Regions from separate parts of the Homo sapiens genome. Here all the other regions are linked to region 2. The links come from fine-mapping of genetic effects on gene expression. A gene starts in region 2. Each other region holds a variant in brackets. All regions are shown on one strand. Distances are between the middles of the regions. Region 1 has its middle 7.5 kb from the start of SLC2A6. Region 2 holds the start of ADAMTSL2 (ADAMTS like 2). Region 3 overlaps ADAMTSL2 (ADAMTS like 2).

Region 1 (2,748 bases), 48 kb after region 2:
GTCCCCCCACCTGAAAGGCCACCCCACTGCTTCAGGAGGTGCCCCAAACCTCCAGGCTCTACCTCCGTCTCCCCCTCTGCACGACGCCTCTAAAGCCACCGCTCGCTTCCCGGCTCGGCTTTTCCAGGGCAGTAGGGGCAGCACGCTGGACTATGGTCTGCCCAGAGACAGAGACAGAGGAAGCGTACAGCCCCCCGGCTGCCCCATCATGGACACCGAGGTGTGTACTTTGGCTTCAGAAAGCTGGAGGAGGGAGAAGAGCCCCACCTACGGGGACCCCAGGAAGGACAAAGCGTGGTTTGGGAATGTGGAACCACGGCCTTGCCGCTCACTTGCCCCTTCTCGGTGGCTGCTTCTCGGAGGCTCCAGAGGCCTCCAGTTCCCTGAGGGGAGCAGTAGCTGGTGCAGAAGAACACAGAGTGACTTCTGAACTCCCCATAGTCTGTTCCTCTGCCTGGAACAGCCTCCCTGGGGACCCCGGCCCTGGCCTACTCCTCCTACACCCTAGAGCTCATCTGCCCCTTCCTGCAGGCCCTACTTACCCAGCCCAGCCCCAGCATGCTGCAGTGAGTCCAGCCTTCCCATTCCTGGTCATACCCCAGCTCCGTCAGGGATCCTGTTTACCCTGTTTCCCCGCAGGGGCTGGCTCACAGTAGAAATTTTTTTTTTCTTTTTTTTTTTGAGACGGAGTTTCACTCTTTTGCTCAGGCTGGAGTGCAATGGCTCAATCTCGGCTCACCGCAACTTCTGCCTCCTGGGTTCAAGCAATTCTCCTGCTTCAGCCTCCTGAGTAGCTGGGACTTCAGGTGGCCGCCACCATGCCCAACTAATTTTGTATTTTTAGTAGAGACGGGGTTTCTCCATGTTGGTCAGGCTGGTCTCGAACTCCTGACCTCAGATGATCCACCTGCCTCGGCCTCCCAAAGTGCTGGGATTACAGGCTTGAGCCACCGCACCCGGCCCACAGTAGAAATCTTGACAAGTACTTGTTCCGTGAGAGACGGCGGTGGGGGGTCTTGGAGCCTCCAGGAGACCTTCCAGCCCGAAGGTCTCCCACACTCCTCCCAGCCCTAAAAATGCTTCCCTGCTTCCTATGTCGAGGTCAGGGAGGGAGCTGTTGCGGCACAAAAGAGCATCAGGGCCCTGGGCCAGGGCCACAGGCAGCATTCTCTGACTCTAGAGCCCGGCTCACAACTTACCTCCGCCCTATGATTTTGTTAAGGAGATTATAGATATGGAGATGGGGAAAGAAGATAAATAGAAAATGTTAAAAATCTGTTCTCTCTGGGTAACAGGATTTGTGCTTATCCACATCCACAATCTCAAAATGTTCTGCACCAAAACATAAAAAGCCTTCAGCTCCTCAGCCCTGGCCTGGACTACCCAGAGGGCACCATGCAGCAGACGATGCGA[T/G]TCTATCTGTAGCCACCAGGTGGCAGCAAAGACCAGGGCACCCGCCTGGCCCAGCCCCAGCCTCCCACGGCACCTGCCTTCCCAACAGGGCCCAGAAGTGGGGTATTGTGAGCCCCATTGGATGACCAGGGAAACCAGGATCCAGGTGGGAAAAGGCACCTGCCCATGTCACAGCCCAGCACGGGCAGAGCCTGGACTAGAACCCCCATCTTCCAACTCACCCGCTCATTTCACCAGTACCTAGGGGTCACTTGGCTTTAACTGCGATACCCAAAAGGGCCTTGCAAAGATTCAGACGGGGCCAAGGTCCTGCAGCCAGCCTGGAGAGGAAGTGGATTTGAGCCCGATCTGCCTGAGCGCCGGGGCTGCGCGAGGCTCTCAGCCCAACATCCGGGGCCGTCCCCAGGAGCACGCCCCCTGCCTGCAATGGCAGAGTCCGGTGCCACCCAGGGGCCCCGCTGGGGAGTCTTGGGGTCCCGTTGGGGCTGCTTTGGGAAAGGGTGGAATGGAGTGCAGCCCAGGGTGTCGCTGGGAGGCCCCGCTGTGCCTCCCCTAACTCCGTGCCAGGCCCAGGCCCCCAACACTTTCCTGGAGCCCACATTAGCAGCAGCTTTGGCAAGGTCCGTCCCACACCAGCCAGGCCGAGAGCAGGAGGAACAGCAGGACAAGGGCTGCAGCCAGGGTCACGGAAGGCGCCAGGGTCACGGAAGGCACCAGGTCCGAGTCTTCAGGGTCATCACCAGGGACATCTCTGGGGACGTTGGGGACACCGGACAGCTGGGTGCCAGAGACCTTCTCCCCTGGGGGCCCTGGGCAGCCCATCTGTGGGAAGGAGGAGGCAAGGGGCAGGACCTCCTCGGGGAAGGCCCCACCTGCCCACCCTCTGCTGTCCCTCTGGTCTGCTCCCTCAGGAAGGCCTGATGTGGGTTGCATAGGCCAAAGCAGGGGGCATGAGGTGACCTAGAAGTGACCCTGGGCAGCAGCTCTGAGCTTCAGTCTTCTCCTCCATAAAACAGGGGTGAAGAAGACCCCCAGAGTGGGATGAGTATTCCCGGCATCTGCTCCCCGCCTCCCACCTTCCCAAGACACGGCAGCCCTACTGTCCCCTCGGAGACCTCGGCCCTGGTGCCAGGCCTGGAATGCAGCTTGGCCCGTTTCCGGGGAACTGGGAAGCTGTCAGACTGGTCTGGAGGGACCTTTGTCAAACTGCATCAACGCGGCCAGCTGCCCTCCCCCTGCACGGCAGCGGTGAGGTGGGCACAGGTGGCATCCATCCTACAGATGAGAAAAGTGAGGCTTAGCGGACCAGTGGCTCCTGAGAAGCCCCGGAGATTG
Region 2 (2,748 bases):
GCCTCTGCCACTGGCTGCTAGGGTCAGTGCATGGGGATGGGCTTGGCCAGGTCCCGGGGGAATGTGCAGCCTCGCCCTAGACCAGCAGCTCCACAGTCAGCATCCAGCAACAGCCGGCACTCAGGTGAGGCAGAACCCAGGTACCTATGCCGCCTCCCGATCCCCGGAGAGAAGATGGAATTGGGGGAGGGGCAGGGCAGGAGGAGGTGCAGTTTGTGCCAGCATGTCAGCAGTCCAGGGCCACAAGGCTGACTTCCTCCCAACAGCCAGCACCCTTGGCTCAAAACACCTGCCAGGGGTCAAAGCAAGCCCATTGGAAGGGACTGTCCAGCCTCCAGGCCCTCAGCTCTCCCCACCCCCTCCTCAGCGTCGACCCTGCCCTGTGGAAGGGAAGACCAGAGATCCACCATGACCTCTGTCCAGGCCTTGCTCAGGTGCTGAGGGTCACTTGCCAGCGAGTTAGAGAAGGGATTTCAGAAACCACGCAGCCTGCACTCATAACCTGGAGCCCAGAGAGGGGAGCCAACCTGCTCAAAGCCACACAGCAAGGTAGCACACTAGCAAACTCAGGGACTCGACCCCCACGCCTGGCCAATTCCAGGGGAAGAAGGCATGGAGGTCACCCCTCACCCCTGCCAGGCCAGAGGCCAACTCGGGCTCTGCCCCTCCCTCCTCAGCAGCCTCCATCCAACTTGAAGAGTTTCCTTGCAGGCCCGGCACCTGCAGATTTTCAGGGGCCACTCCAAGGACACCACTGCAGCCCGGACGACGCAGCAGTGCACCCTGGAGTGGGGAGCCTGAGTCTGACCTCCCCTGCCCCCGCCGCCTGCCCCCCACCTCCCTCCCCTGCAGACCTCCATCTGCACTCTCAGCCTCACACCCACAGGAGCCCCCTCCACTGTGCCATTGGCTAACGGGTGCCCCAGCCTCTGCCTGCCGGCTGAAGACAGGTGCCAGCCGGCCTCACACTTGCTTTTTTCATTAAGGCTTCCAGACACCACTGGCTTCTGGCCAGGCCTCGCTCACGGGGATCCATCCCTCCCTGGGGTCCAAAAGCAGCGGCTGGCGGCAGCAGAGAGGTCTGCCGTGCACACAGAGCTCCGGGCGCACAAGGCTAGGTGCTGGGAGGCCACCCTGCCCCGTGCTCTGCGGCCCGACCCCTCCCCACAAGCCTCCCCACGTTATGTAACGGCTCCAGAGGGCGCGGGGTGCTCCTACCCCCAGCCCCACTCTGAGCAGTGGGCTGGCCTGGTGGACGCTGCAACGTGAGGGGGACGGGGACGAGGTGGCCTACCTGGCTTCGGGTCAGCAGGTTGTCCTCCCAGAGAAAGGGGCGAGCGCTGCGGAGGGCAGACGGCGCCAGGTGCGCTGTGCGTGCGGGGGCGGCGTGAGTGCAGAGGCTGCGGCCCGGCCTCCCTCTCCCCTTCCCCTCCTCCCCCGCGCCGCCTCCCTCTCCCACTTCAAAGAGCATCCAAGAGAGGGGGTTCCCGGGAGGGGCGCAGCCCAGTGGCGGCTCTGCGCCGGCGGCCGCCTTTATAGCTGTCAGGCAGACGGGGAGGAACACTCACACTTCCCACCAGGCCGCTCCCCCGCCCGCGCCGGCCGGCCTGGCGCACACTTTAACCCGCTCTGCGCCTCTGGAGCCCGGCCAGGCCGGCCCAGCTGCCTGTTGGCTGCTGCCGGCGGCGGCGGCCCAGGAGCGGCGAGCAGGGAGGCCTTCTTCCCGGGTCCAGAACTGGGGGCCACATGTCGGGTGTCCAGACGGAGCAGCCGCTGGCCTGAGGTTACCGGGGAGGCTGGCGGTGGCAAAGCCCCAGCCCCGCCTGTCCGGCTTCTGCCTCCAGAGCGGGCCCTGTCCCTGGGGCTCCTGAGAATGGGGTCTGGGATGTATGAGGTGTCCCGTCTGATGGCTCCGTTGTACGGAGGGAAAGGCTGAACTTCCGGGACGACCGTGCCCCAGGTCACGAGCCTCAGAAAGCTCCCGAGATGCAGGGGCCTAAGCAGGTGGAGGGACGCAGGGAGACCCAGCGAGAATGAACCAAGGGCTCCAGGGAGGAGACAGATGTGCCCGTGGCCTGCTGACCAGATGGCTAGAGCAGCCAGGGCCAGGGCAGAGAGGCTCAGGGATTCTGCAGATGTCCAGCACCAACTTGGCAGCCCCTGGCAGGCCAGGCCTGGAGCTCAAGCCTCTGTTCCTGCTGAGTCAGGGCACAGAGGGGAGCGAGAGTGGGTGGAGCAGCAGAGCCCCCCTGGGAAACTCCCGGCGGGCCCCAGACTTTGTGAGGCTTTCCTAAAGCAAGGCTGGGCACCTAGCCTCTGCACACCAGCTTCCCCAGAGCCCATCCTCGGCAAACAGAGGCACCTCCAAAAAGGGGAGGAGGAGGAAGCTGGGGCACCATTCCATCAGGTCATCTGTGTCTTTTCATCCATGCCCCTGCCTCCATGCAGCAGATGTCCTGGGCCCACAGCAGTGCCGGGAAGACACTTCTCCTTCCCTCTGTCCTCCCTGCTGGAAGAAACTTGTGAGTTCCTTCAGCTGCCTTCATGAGAAAGTTCTGCCCTGTGTCTGACCACCCACCAGAAAGGCTGGGAAGGAAAGCCACCAGTAATAGTAGTGAAAGCGATAATACCGTCTGCCCTCTGTCCAGCTTGTCCTACGGGCCCAGAGCTGTGAGGCCAGATCCACCTTTATGATCTGCATTTCACAGGTGGAAGAACTGAGGTTCGGGGACCAAGTCACCTCTCCAG
Region 3 (2,748 bases), 27 kb before region 2:
AACCCACCTTTGAGATAAGCAGGCGTCCCAGTTCACCTGTGGAAAACAGTGGCTCGGAAGGCTTTGGCAATTTGCCCAGGGCCCATGGTGTGGTCAACCAGGCGGTGCAAGCCTGGCCAAGCCGGTGCCCACCACGCCGCCCACAGCGGTGCGAGCCTGGCCAAGCCAGGTGCCCACCACGCCGCCCACAGCGGTGCGAGCCTGGCCAAGCCGGTGCCCACCACGCCGCCCACAGCGGTGCAAGCCTGGCCAAGCCGGGTGCCCACCACGCCTCCCACAGCGGTGCGAGCCTGGCCAAGCCGGGTGCCCACCACGCCGCCCACAGCGGTGCGAGCCTGGCCAAGCCGGTGCCCACCACGCCGCCCACAGCGGTGCGAGCCTGGCCAAGCCGGTGCCCACCACGCCGCCCACGGCGGTGCGAGCCTGGCCAAGTCGGGTGCCCACCACGCCGCCCACGGCGGTGCGAGCCTGGCCAAGCCGGTGCCCGCCACGCCGCCCACGGCGGTGCGAACCGGGCCCAGCCGGGTGCCCGCCACGCCGCCCACGGCGGTGCGAGCCGGGCCCAGCAGGGTGCCCGCCACGCCGCCCACGGCGGTGCGAGCCGGGCCCAGCCGGGTGCCCGCCACGCCGCCCACGGCGGTGCGAGCCTGGCCGAGCCGGGTGCCCGCCACGCCGCCCACGGCGGTGCGAGCCTGGCCGAGCCGGGTGCCCGCCACGCCGCCCACAGCACTTGCTTTTTCCCTCCAGGATGCCAGGCGCAGGGGCGAACACAGCATGCCCCATGGCTATGCCCTGTTTGGGGGCTCTTGTAACAGGAGGCAGAGCCCTTTCTTCAGTCCCAGAGAGGCAAGGCCAGTGTGAGCAGAGCCTGCAGGGCCGCCCCAGCCCCTCCCTCTCTCGGGCCCATCTCCTGAGATGCCAGCAGGGCTGCAGAGGGTGCGGCCAAGCTCAGACTGCCCAGCTGTGTGGAATCCTCACTGGCCAGAGACTGCAAGGGCATCAAATGCCCTGGCAAATGGGTGGCACTGGGGCGGGACCAGGAGCATCAAACCTTTTGAGGGCCAGCTGGGTATCCTCTACATCCAAACATGAAGCCCCAAGAATAGATAAAATGTGACCTCACAGCCGGCACTGGGGTCTCCCTGCCATATTTTCTCCCATCAACGGCCCTGTATCCTGATCCTGGGTTTGACATCAGACCTCGCGGCATCCCCCAGGGGAGGGTACTAGAGTGGGCAGCAGAGGCAGCTCCAGCTCTAGCGGCTGTGGCCAGCGTCTCAGGGCGATGGTGGCCGTGCAACCAGACAGCTGTGGGTTCAAATCCCAGCTCAACTCTTACTAACCACACAC[A/C]TCTGTCTGTCCAGGCACCACCGAGGAGGGTCTTTTTTCCCCTCCTAACTTCTCCCCTGCTGATGAGGTCCTAGAATTTGCCTACTTCCCTTCGTCACAGATCACAGGGGCCTATGACTCCCTTCCTATGTTTGCTGGAAGCAAAAGTAAAATCTCTGCTACCTAAGATTTCTTACTTTTAACCCAAAGGATGTTTGCCCTAACAAAACATGGTATCACTGGCAACAGACAAGGGCTACCACCAATGGGTGGTAGCCCGGATGACCCCCAGGGGCCTGGACCTGACCATGGTCTAGCACACTGTGAGAATGAGGGTGGCCTCACCAGACACCCAAACTCCTATCACGCCACACTGCCCCCAAGTCAGGAGGCCACGGACAAGCACCCCGAGGGCAGTTTGGGGGCTGCAAGCTAGTGGGTGGGCCCCACAGCCCCAGCCCATGTCCATGGAAATGGGTTCAGGGCAGTTGCTGCCCCTTGGCACCCGTGACCAGTACCTGTGGTGCAGGTGGCACTGCAGGGCTCGTGGGACGAGAGCTTCCACCGGTACATGTCCGCGGGACTCACGCCTTGCTTGCGCGCCTTGGGCCTGGTCCTGAAAGCGAGACCAAGCAGGGAAGGTGATGAGACGCTCCAGGCCCCACCGGCAGGCTCCGGCTTTTCAGGCGAGGGAGTTTTCTTCGGAGGGTATGTTCGCCTGAAGCACACACCTGTCCTGAGCCCCGGGCCGACCCTCCACCTGCTACGGTCAGAGTTCCCACTGTCTGAAGTGGAACGGATGAGGCGCCCGCAGAGGGGCACATTTTAGGATTGATTGGCATTGTTTTCCATCTCAACTGCATGGGAGCTGCCCGAGCTCCTTCCGGAGGGGAGGGGTGGCCTGAGAATTTGGGGCCCCCAGCACTGTAGTTGCTCCCTGCACACACGCAGGCTTCTCAATATTACCTTCTCACATCAGCTAGTGGGTTCCTTCTTCCCACCGGGGAGGGGACCTCAGAAGGTGTCTTATGTGCTAAGAATGTTCCAGAATTCTCTCCCACCCCCTCCTCCAGCTGGGACTCTGATGGAATGGGGGACACTAGGCATCCAGCCTCCAATTATCAAAATTAAAAAGCTCGGCTGCTGGCAGGGGCCGAGCCTACAGTGCAATTCAGGCAGGCCATGGCTGCACGGACCTGCTGGGGTCGGGGGAGGCACGCTGGGTCCCAGCCAGCCACCAGCTATGATTCTTGGCTGGAGCCTATGCAGCCAAAGCCAACTATTGTTAGGACTGTTTGCTTCTTTGAACCAGTAGGTGTGCCTGGGCCCAACCTCCACATCCAATGTGCAGGCTCATTCTGGACTCGGCAGGGGAGGAGGGAAGCAGAGGCGGCAGCAGCTCCACAGCCCGGGCATCTG

What was found.
Region 1: its variant is fine-mapped to the expression of ADAMTSL2 in whole blood (TOPMed, PIP 0.95).
Region 3: its variant is fine-mapped to the expression of ADAMTSL2 in tibial nerve (GTEx, PIP 0.90).

What each region holds. Positions count from the first base shown.
Region 1 is chr9:133,485,178-133,487,925 of GRCh38, reverse strand. No RefSeq gene overlaps it. Among named protein-coding and RNA genes, the nearest start is that of SLC2A6, 7.5 kb to the right of the region's middle. RefSeq lists enhancers at 1,497-2,011, 2,012-2,527. The variant T/G (reference allele first, on the strand shown) is at 1,414.
Region 2 is chr9:133,533,464-133,536,211 of GRCh38, reverse strand. It overlaps ADAMTSL2 (ADAMTS like 2), which reads right to left and starts at 1,508. Exons shown (of 19, transcript NM_014694.4): 1 at 1,295-1,508. RefSeq lists enhancers at 1-479, 1,020-1,561, 1,562-2,101, 2,102-2,643.
Region 3 is chr9:133,560,395-133,563,142 of GRCh38, reverse strand. ADAMTSL2 (ADAMTS like 2) reads right to left here. Exons shown (of 19, transcript NM_014694.4): 12 at 1,848-1,945. Among named protein-coding and RNA genes, the nearest start is that of ADAMTSL2, 27 kb to the right of the region's middle. The variant A/C (reference allele first, on the strand shown) is at 1,351.